Homo sapiens: one gene and its partners. The protein of the gene in region 1 interacts with the protein of each later gene in a pairwise test. Each region holds a gene or a part of one and is shown on either strand. Other genes may lie near its edges. The genes, in order: WBP11, NOD2 and ITSN1.

Region 1 (3,651 bases):
TGGTGTAGAACATTTATTTATTTTTCCCACAAATCACTGAAAGTTTAGGTCAGTGGGAAATAATTTTAATCAAATAATTGTACATATTCTTCCCACATATCCTGCCTTGTATTAGGAAATGACATTGTGATCCATTTCATTACAAGTAAAATATTACAAAATATTTACAGGAAAATATTAAAAATAACTCAAACACAAAAGGCAAGATGAAATAAACTGTTTTTTTTTCTCCAGAAATCTCTACTCCAGTGCCCACAGCACACAAGAGTCAAAACAAATAAGCAACTAAGATCCCCCGATCACAAATTTCCAAAGAACTGGAGGAGGGGAAGAAACAGGGTGAAAATGGTGGTATGAAAGGGAATGGATGTTAGCAGCACTGCTTCAATAACTGATCTATTCTGGATGAAATACCCTTTTTTATGTGCAGTAAATTCTGAACAAGGCTAAATTTTAGGATATTCCTTGAACTGAAATTAGAAAATACCCTGACAATGGAAGCAGCTCTTTCATCTAAGTTTAATAAGAGCCTCTTTCTCCATGGGCCACTGTTGTGAACAGAAGCCTTTTCTGGCATCAAAAGCTGTCACAGTAGCCCTTCCATCTCTTTCATGAAAGCCTCATAGACATCATCCTTAGTTTGTACTGAGACAGGAACAGAAGGACCAGATTTGGGTGCTGCTTTGGCAAGAGGCACAGCAGAATCATCCTCTGACTTTCTTTGGGGAGCAGCAGTAGCCCCTTTATTCTCCCGACGTACTCTCAGTGCAGTGGGCACAAATCGAGTAATCTCTGCCTTGGGATTAGTGATCTGTGGCTTGGCACTGATGGTTGCTGTGGCTTTCTTCTCAATGGTGGCTGCACTTGTATCATCCGCCTTGGGTCGCTGAATCAAGTTGGGTGGGGCACTTAAAACCCCAGGGTTTGGCAAGGGAGCTGGTGGGAACAGCCCAGGGGGGGCAGGTCCAAGGGGAGGCACCAAAGGTGGGCGCATCATGCCAGGACGAGGTGGAGGAATACCTAAATGAATAAAATAGGCAAGATGAATACTGTAAGAACTAATAAAATTTAACTACTATTAAGGACATTTAAATATTGGTTGCCAATTTTTAAATAAATGGATAACAACTTACAGAAAATAAGCTGAATTCATATTGGTTGCTATTTGAAACTCAGGAATATTTTATTATAAAACAGTATTTACCTTCAGCCTATATTCCTGTACTTACAGTATTATGTTCTCTTCTTCTCTAAATAACATCCTACTTTAAAATATAAAGGGACATCAACTGGTTTCAAATTACTATCTCAAATCTCACATCCCAAGGTTCTATTCCAGCTGCATAGTGCAGGTATTAGTAAGGACAAGGTCAGGAGACTGATCCCCATGCATTATATTCCATACCATTTCCCCTGCACAAAAAGGTCAATGGGCAGGAAATAAAATTTTAACCCTGGTCATCAAATGCATACGGAGGCCGAGCATGGTGGCTCACACTTGTAATCCCAGCACTTTGGGAGGCTGAGGCGGGTGGATCATTTGAGGTCAGGAGCTCGAGACCAGCCTGATGACCAACATGATGAAACCCTGTCTCTACTAAAAATACAAAATTAGCTGGGCGTGGTGGTGCACGCCTGTAATCCCAGCTACTTGGGAGGCTGAGGCAGGAGAATTGCTTGAACCCAGGAGGCGGAGGTTGCAGTGAGCTCAGATCGCGCCATTGCACTCCAGCCTGGGCAAGAAGAATGAAACTCCGTCTCAAAGAAAAAAACAATGCACATGGAGTAAGAGAATGCAACTAATCACAATCTGTCATCATTACTGGAAAAGAACTCATGTCCTATGGACAGTTCAGACATACACAATATTCATATACCAAGAACTGCAGATTTCAGTTCTTCAAATACCACTTTTAAATGAAATATTAAGTACATTTTATCAAATCTAAGATCCTATTGATTACAAACTCATAATTATTCTGTGTACCACTGAGAGAGAGAGAGGAAAAAAAGCCCCAGCTGGGGCACTGAAAAGCAGATATTCACATGAAACTGGGACATTTCAGTGTTGTAAACTAGAAATATACCTACCACATAAAACAAGCCCACAAGAAAATCTGCATGTCTAACCTTGACATTAGGTAGAGGTAAGGGAAAAAAACACTCTAATTTTAAACTTTAAGTTGGTACTCATGCAGATGCATGAAACGGCTTCGTAACTACAACTAAAACCAAAAAATTATCAAATAGAGAATTTAATCCCATGTTCTCTGGCTACAAGTTCCTCAAGTGAACCAAGTGCAAATACCCACTGGAAGAACTGTACTTCAAGCCAGGTCAACGGCAACTTAAAAACCACCACTGACTGTAAGATGACCTCAGATTTCAGAATACTGAAATGTGACCATATGTCTTAGAGCAAATTAAATAAACAGCAGGCTAAGTTTTTATTATAGAAATTGAAAGCATCACCTGGAGGTGCAGGGGGAGGTAGCCTTGGTGGGGGTCCACGAGGAGGGGGACCAGGAGGCAGACCTGGAGGTGGACCTGGGGGAGGGCCAGGGGGTCGGCCTGGTGGTGGTCCTGGAGGTAAAAGTCGGGGTAAGGGCCCTCGGAGTCCTGGCATTCCAGGTGGTCTCAGGAATGGAGGAGCTCCTGAAAAGAGAAAAATGATAAATTAATGTCACACAAATGTACACTAAGTAATAATTATGGCTTAAAAGTAACTCAAATATGGTTTGACTTTAACCTGAAATCAGATTAACTTCAAGAAGTTAATGAAACATACATGGAAACAGAATTCATTCAATAAATATCTGAGTACAGCCGGGCATGGTGGCTCATGCCTGTAATCCCAGCACTTTGGGAGGCTGAAGTGGGTGGATCACAAGGTCAGGAGTTCAAGACCATCCTGGCCAAGATGGTGAAACCCCATCTCTACTAAAAATACATAAAAATTAGCCGGGCATGGTGGCAGACACCTGTAATCCCCGCTACTTGGGAGGCTGAGGCAGGAGAATGGTGTGAACCCGGGAGGCGGAGCTTGTAGTGAGCTGAGATTGCGCCATTGCACTCCAGCCTGGGTGACAGAACAAGACTCCGTCTTAAAAAAAAAAATATATCTGAGCACCAGAAAAATGGTACTGGATTTGTTGTGGATCTTTTCACTTTATTTCCCAACACTGACAAAAAGCATATTCAATCACAGCTCCGCAATGTTGGAAATATACAAAGGTGATAAGAATTCTTAAATGGTTCCAGTATAAGCTGAAAATGGAATATAAAACACAATGCTTTAAGGACCCCTTGAAACTCATGAATATATAGACAAAGACCACTAAGAATGACATAAAATAGGTAACTTTGCTTTGCACCAATCGGAAAATGATTAGCTCAACTGAAGAAAACTTAGTAGGCTGACAATAGGATGAAGGACTAAAATCACAAATAGCTGAAAAGTTCTCTGTTGCTTCATTTCATAAATAATCTTTTTATACTTTCAAACTGAACACTTAATAAACAGACTAATCACCTTTGCCTCTAAAAAAGAACTACAACTAAAAAACTATGGAGATTACACTGACATTCAACATTCCTAACCTAAGAACACAAGACATTATTAACTGTGTCTTACTCCCACCTGCTGCCAAT
Region 2 (3,651 bases), on another chromosome or scaffold:
CGCCATTTTAAAATGGCGGCTCCCATCCACAAACCCAGCCCAAGAGGTAAAAGAATAGATGGAAGCAATTCTTTACTTTGTCTTTTTTTACTGCCTCACAAATCACAGGAGGCAAGAATATCTGAGAGAGAGAGAAGGAGAGAGAAGCCAGGCCAACCCAGCGGCCAGCTAGAGGGGCAATTTAAAGGCATCAGGTAGGAGAGAGAGAGACTCCTGTTGAAACTGGGAGACACTGGAGTAGCAGAAATGCAGAACCAGATGGACTGCAAACCTTGCATGCTCTGAGTGGTGAAAGGACCTCCTGGGAGTGTTGCAGCAACTCGCTGCCACAGCTGGGGTGGCAAGTAACTGTGTATGCCTCCCCCACCAGGACGAGCTCAACATGCATCGTGGAACTCAGTAAACCCAGAAAGCTGTGACACTCTTAGACACAGAAAAGGAAAGGGGCCTAGAAAAGCTTTCTTGCCCTACGGGCTAAAGGTCAAAAGACAGGAAGTCCTCAGCAGAGCTAGTCCAGAGTTTACTGGGGAGATCACAGCATTAGAGAACCCCTGCTTAAAATGAGACACTGTCCCTGCATTCAATCAGGAGGTCAGGAGCCAGTGTGGGCAGTGCCAGGCCAAGACCAGATCAGACTGACTCAGGAATGGGGCAAAAAATAGTTTCCAGGGAATAAGGAAAACCTGGGCTCACCTCAATGCCAAGAAGTTCTGCCTGCATGCAAGGAGCTTAGCCATGGAGTGTGCACAGCCGTCAGTCAATTTGTTGTTGAATAGACTGTTCAGTTCCAGAAGAGAGGAGACACAGAAGCAAAGCACATTGGACAGTGAGCACCAAATCCCAGGGTTGCCCTTCCCCTCTGGGCAGGAATCACCTGCACCCCCCATCATGCAAACAGCCCCTGCCCCAGCCCATCACTCACAGCTTCCCAGGCTGCACGACCTGGGGTGAGACCAGGGCACTTGGAGCCCATTGTCCACAGCCCAGGCTGACTTACGCTAACTTCTGCAATTGCTCGCAGTGAAGAGCACATTCAATGAGCTTGCAGATGCCTCGGTCTGAGATATTGTTATCGCGCAAACTAAAGAGACAAAATAAATACATTTGAAAATGGAGCTAGTAAGACAAGAAAAAAATCTACAAATCCCCCAAAAAGACTTTCATTCATCCCTGAAGTGCCAGCATCTGTGCTTCCAGGAAACCCTGCATAGATGGAGCACCCCAAAAAAGTGGAGACCCCACGGTCCCTGGCCAGGGAGGTGACGTGGTGCACTATGATGGGGATGGCCCAGGACGTAGGATCCAGACCCCCTACTAAAGAACCCTGGAATCCTTAGGAAATGACAGAGCTAATTTGAGGCAATGTTTCCATCTCTGCAAAAGGAACATGATAATCACAGCAGCCTCACAAAGGGGATGATGGTGGAAAGGAGCTGATATATGCGAAAGGTGCAGCCTGAACTAGACAGGCTACCCCTGGGGACAATTTACCATCATCTAGGTCAGCAGACAGTAGACCAGCTGGATGAGAGTGGCCAAAACTTCAGAAACAGGCATATAGGCTGTGGTTAGTGAGGCCCTGCTGCCCAGTCCTTAACCCCAATGGCACCACTCCAACAGGCTAGTCCCTGCCGAGCAAGCCCTGTCTGCCACTCCTCTTGGGGCACCATTCCCAAAACTCACCTGATCACAACATCATCTGAAAGCTTCCCTAAAAGACAGATTCTCAGGCCCATACCCTGGAGCTGGCAATCAAGTATCTGCGGGGTGGGGCCCAGGAATCTGTATATTTTAACAACTGTGCACATGATTCTTTATCTTTAGGCAAACTTGGGAGGCCCTGACTGAATGGTTAACAGCTCAGGCTCTGGAGTGCCTCAGCTGGATATTGTGATCCTGATCAGCGACTTACTAGTTATTTGCTGGTCTCTTCATCTATAAAAGAGGGAACAGGCCGGGCACGGTGGCTCACGCCTGTAATCCCAGCACTTTGGGAGGCCGAGGCGGGCGGATCACGAGGTCAGGAGATCGAGACCATCCTGGTTAACACAGTGAAACCCTGTCGCTACCAAAAATACAAAAAAATTAGCCGGGCGTGGTGGCAGGCGCCTGTAGTCCCAGCTACTTGGGAGGCTGAGGCAGGAGAATGGCGTGAACCCGGGAGGCAGAGCTTGCATGAGCCGAGATTGTGCCACTGTACCCCCTGCCTGGGCAACAGAACGAGACTCCGTCTCAAAAAAAAAAAAAGAGGGAACAATAGTATTATCAGCCTCACCAGGCTGTGCACATAAAGCCTTGTGAGCACCCGGTACACAGTAAAAGTCACCTAGAATCATGATCGCTAGCACTGATCACTACCCTTACCACTTCTCAATAATAACACTATTTCATCCTCACAACAAGCCAGTGAAATGGGAACCATTATTATGAGCATTCGTGAGAAAGAAACTGAGGCACAGACAAGCGAAGTGACTTTGCCAAGGTTGTACGGCACATAAAGGCTTTGAGCCTAGGCGGCTTGGCTCCAAACCCCACTCTTAACCATGACATTGTGCAGCTTCTCCCTCAGGGCCTCTTATGGCCACTTCTGTAGTGCAGTGATTTTTCAGACTGCAGGTTGCAGGTCATGCAAATCATTTTGAAGGTCCTGAGCAGCATTTCTAAAATGGAAATAGAACAGAACAGAAGAGAGCAGAGTGTCTCAGAGTTCATAAAGCGAAGTCATTTTGTGAAACTTAGGTTCCATGTTTACATGGTGGTGCGTGCTCTCTCTCTCTCTTTCTCAATCATTGTGGGTAACATTCAAAAAACTTTTAAAGCCATCACTCTAGAGTCTGAGAGAGCCAGAGTCTAAAGAAACCTATATAGGGGCACTGTGTATATAGGGTTTCCTAGAGGCTGAGGATTTCAGTTGGCATGGAAACACTTCAAGTGGGAGAGAGGCAGGTTGGCACTGTGGGAGAGGAGCCTGTGCCCTCCCCCTTCCTCCCTTCCTCTCTTTCTCAATCTCTCTCTCTCTCTCATACACACACACACACACACACACACACACACACACACACACAGTGCACTCACAGCAACCTCATGGTTGCTTCCCCTCCCCTACGGCCTTGGCAGTTTTAGTGTGTGTAAGGTGAAGAGCAGTAAAACTCGCTCAAGGACAGTAATTGCTAATGGAAAACCAAGCTGGTTGCTGCAGACCAGTAGTTCTCCCAGGGCGAGACCACTTGTATCAGAATCACCAGGGGTGTCTGTGAAAAATATAGATTTCCTGGGCCCCACCCCAAACCTACTGAATGGGAATCACTAGAGGCAGGCCCAGGAATCTGCATTGCCACGAGTGCCTTTACACACCACAGTCTGAGCACCATGAGCTAGAACCAGGCCACCCTCACCTTTCTCTGAACACAGAGACAGACCCACAGGTTTCCCAGAGCCCTTCTGCACACCCTGGTAATCACGGGGACATCCCTAATCAAGGATGGATGATCCATTCAAGAATTCCAGAGATGGACTGGCCTATGAGGATCACACAGGCCAGTGATGCCTGGCCTCTTGGGGTAAAAACTGAGTCTACTACCCAGGAAAATGCACATTCTTATTTCTATCAGGGAAATTGCTCCAACAGACAGGTTTCCAAATTCCCACTCA
Region 3 (3,651 bases), on another chromosome or scaffold:
AAAGACAAAGAATCTATAGGTCCAGCAATAAGTGACTGATTACATATATGACGATGTAGCAAAAAAGGCTGCAAATACAACACATTAAGTGAAAAACACAGGCTACAAAACTGTACGTACCTGAGGCTACAAACTGGCAAGGCAACGAAGACTGAATCCAGCCCTCAGGTATGCTTTGAACCCCAGTGTGTTAACAATAAAAAGTGTGGCCCACATAAAAATCAGAAGATTTCATATTAAACCCACATTCTCCTAAATAACTATAAGGTGTAGTAACACCAGGACGCATCCTCCCAGAACCACAAAGGTCTGGGTTGACTGGCCCTGGACCGTCCTGCCACCTTCAGTGCTCGTGGTCCCTAACAGGCCTTCAACTCTCCCGGGCTAAGTAGCTTCACACCAGGCACCTGCTGGGTAATTTGAGCATGTTGACCTTCACAGGGTATTAACAGTCATTATCACTGGATGGTAAGATCTTGGTAGGCTTTTAGTCTTCTTTCCTTATATATGTTTCCAAAAGTTTTCTTCAATAAACATGTATTCCTTTTGTAGTAGGAAAAAACATGTTATTTTTTAAATTACCAAATCACAACTGTAATATTAATCACTTCATCTACCAAGATCAAAACAACTAAAGATAACAGATAATGACTGTGGTTTAAAACTAATTGAACTAAGAATTAAAGTAAGGTTACGATTACTGCAGGATTTCCCTCCCTTTGATACTAATTAAAACTCCAGATTGGACAGACAACAGCAGCATTTTACAAAACAGATCTTCCTCAAAGAGAACAGCTTCTATAGACAATGCAAAAGCCTGCTATTTTAAGGATTCATTCCCATACATTTAAGATTTCTTTCACTAAAAAAAGGAAACAAAATCTCTCCTATAGAAACCTATATTCATAACCTCAATTAATTTGTTTATAAAGCTAAATAATTCTTGATCTTTGTCTTACACTGCTATTTCATTTGATCAATAGTAATAATTTTATGGGGTTCTCTTTTCCTCAGAGAAACTCCGGAAAGTTTACACAAATTACCATTCATCTCAAACCATTCCTGAGACCTCACAAAGTACACCACATTATCCTCATCACAAAGATAAAGCAGAAGGCTAGGTAGAAACGTCAACATCCATAGACAGCTGGAAGCCGAGTCAATGGAATGTTCCTCTCTATCCATCCTCCAATCCACTCCCACATGATACTCAGAAGGAGATTTTTAAACAAAAGCACATCATGGGACTCCCCTGCTTAAAACTTACATTAACTTCCTACTTCCCAGACATTCAGAGTCAAGTCCCAAGTGGGCCTCTCTCCTTCACTCCCCACCTGTCTCTCTTGCCCCCAGCACTTGCTCTGTACCAGCTCAGAGCCCTCGGGCCTCCAGGCTTGAAGGACCTCAAACACTCCTTGATTTAATAAACCAACAAATAACCCTTGCGTGTCTGCCAGGCAGCAGGCGCTGCTCTAGGGCCTGGGGCTAGCCCCCTGGACAACAGCGATACACTCCCTGCCCTCATGGAGCTAACATCCTGGTAACCCCGCTACCAAGTTTCTTCCTCCTGTAATCATTTAAAGAATATTAAAACAACAATTGTAATAACTGTATCTGAAGGGGTCTAAAAATAAGCAGTGCTACCTATAATACAGATCTATTCTCATTTAATGACTTTAATATTAGCTCTTTATATTAAGTGCAGGAAAGAGGAAAAATAAAGGCAAAGGGAACTACTATTCATTGAAATCTGCTATATACCAAGAATGGCACTCATTTTCTTGTCAATTTTTCAAGGTTTCTCTCATTACTAGCTATATAGCTTTCATTCATCAGTGGCCAAAATGCAATTCTCCAATTCTGCAAGACTGGGGCAGCTGAGTTTCAGATAACTTCAGAAATTGAAAGATAACTTGGTTTTAAAATCTACTATCTTAAGTTCAGAGCGGAAATGAATTGATTTTTGTGAAACACTGGATCCACAATGAACACTCCTATTATAGATAACACACTGGAATGATATATGTGTTTACACAACATTTTGTCTGTGTTAGAACAATAAAACCGGTCAGGAAATTTGCCTTGCAGAGAAGTAATTAACCCTGTACACACACACAGGCAAACAGACACACACACACAAAACGAATGGCTCCAATTCGTTGGAGCTCCAATTCCAATCTTGTTGCAGTGCTTTTATGGTAAGAGTCAGCGTCCTTCTTAACTAGGTTGGTTAAAGCCTGACACTAAAAGCCAGCTGACCTCGTCCACGTCCATGAACTGTATCCATGTCTTGCAAATGCATGCCACCAGACACCAGAACGATTTGCAGACATAATGCAAGGAGGAACACATCAAATGCTCACCAGTGCAACAGAGGAGCAAGAGCATTGTCCTCCTGTATTAAAAAGAGGATGTTTAATTTTAACCACCAAGGGTAAAATTCTGACCACTTGCTGTGTTGCTATGACCTTGTTATTTTCTTTCTTTCTTTTTTTTTTTTTTTTCTGAGACAGAGTCTCGCTCTGTCGCCAAGGCTGGAGTGTAATGGTGCGATGTCAGCTCACTGAAATCTCCACCTCCTGGGTTCAAGCAGGGAATTGAAGCAATTCTCCTGCTTCAGCCTCCCAAGTAGCTGGGATTACACTTGTGCGCCACCACGCCCGCCTAATTTTTGTATTTTTTAGTAGAGATGGGGTTTCACCATGTTGGCCAGGCTGGTCTCAAACTCCTGACCTCATGATCCGCACACCTCGGCCTCTCAAAGTGCTGGGATTACAGGTGTGAGCCACCACGCCCGGCCAGACATTGTTATTTTCACATTCGAATTCACTTGAATTCAAAATTCTGCCACAGCCCTCAGCTCAACTCCTGGCTCCACCACTCAATGAAGGGCCAAACGCACTACCACATGACTCCAGCAGACCCCATACCACACAAAAACAATGACAGGTTTTGGTGACCAACTGAAAACTGAGCTAGGCAGCCAAACTCAGTCCAGAGAGCTGAAGCCAAAACAATTTCACCAATGTTCTCTCTGGGCAGTAAGCTAATAAAGCAAGCTACCTATCATTAATTCTACTAGAAAAACACCGAAAGAGCAGTGATGCATTAAAATAGATTAACTTGCTTAAAATTCACTTTCTTAGAGAGCTACGAACTTTAGGAACAAAACTGGAGTGACATTCTACCATCCCATGTATTAATAAAAATGTTTTGGTTTACTTTTCAGTGATCTCCCAGTGGATGATATCTCTCTACACTGAGGCCTTCACATTCAGGAAGCAAACTTCCTTAGGCCACTTTCTATCTCCAAAGTGGCCAACATTCACATTCAGGAAGTAAACTTCCTTAGGCCACTTTCTATCTCCAAACTCGCCAACATGGAACTACCTGGACACACACACCCAGCTGTCTCCCTCATCACACTTCTGTACAGTCTTGCGTTTCTAAGACAAGTCCACATCACAAGTGAACTGCCTTTTCAAATTTCACTAGTCTTCTCTAGCACTCTAATCCTGTTTTTCATGCAGGGGTACTTTAGGAAAACCACTACAGAGTAAAGGATAACAAGACTACTTTAAGGATGAATGCTGGACAGTTGATGAGGCTAATTTTTCTCTCTCTCCTCTTTCTTTCTCCTTCCTTCTCTTT

Evidence for each region.
Region 2: the proteins of WBP11 (region 1) and NOD2 interact in a two-hybrid assay, tested with the Homo sapiens proteins (one large-scale study listed by BioGRID and IntAct).
Region 3: the proteins of WBP11 (region 1) and ITSN1 interact in a two-hybrid assay, tested with the Homo sapiens proteins (2 studies listed by BioGRID and IntAct).

Annotation. Positions count from the first base shown.
Region 1 is NC_000012.12:14,786,479-14,790,129, forward strand, and holds part of WBP11 (WW domain-binding protein 11), read right to left. Parts: intron 2,656-3,651; coding exon 2,473-2,655; intron 1,021-2,472; coding exon 587-1,020; 3' UTR 1-586. UniProt on the Homo sapiens protein: Activates pre-mRNA splicing. May inhibit PP1 phosphatase activity.
Region 2 is NC_000016.10:50,714,017-50,717,667, reverse strand, and holds part of NOD2 (nucleotide-binding oligomerization domain-containing protein 2), read right to left. Parts: intron 2,661-3,651; coding exon of another isoform or gene 2,660-2,660; exon of another isoform or gene 2,187-2,659; intron 2,060-2,186; exon of another isoform or gene 1,913-2,059; intron 1,082-1,912; coding exon 998-1,081; intron 778-997; coding exon 694-777; intron 1-693. UniProt on the Homo sapiens protein: Pattern recognition receptor (PRR) that detects bacterial peptidoglycan fragments and other danger signals and plays an important role in gastrointestinal immunity.
Region 3 is NC_000021.9:33,648,884-33,652,534, reverse strand, and holds part of ITSN1 (intersectin-1), read right to left. Parts: intron 1-3,651. UniProt on the Homo sapiens protein: Adapter protein that provides a link between the endocytic membrane traffic and the actin assembly machinery. Acts as a guanine nucleotide exchange factor (GEF) for CDC42, and thereby stimulates actin nucleation mediated by WASL and the ARP2/3 complex.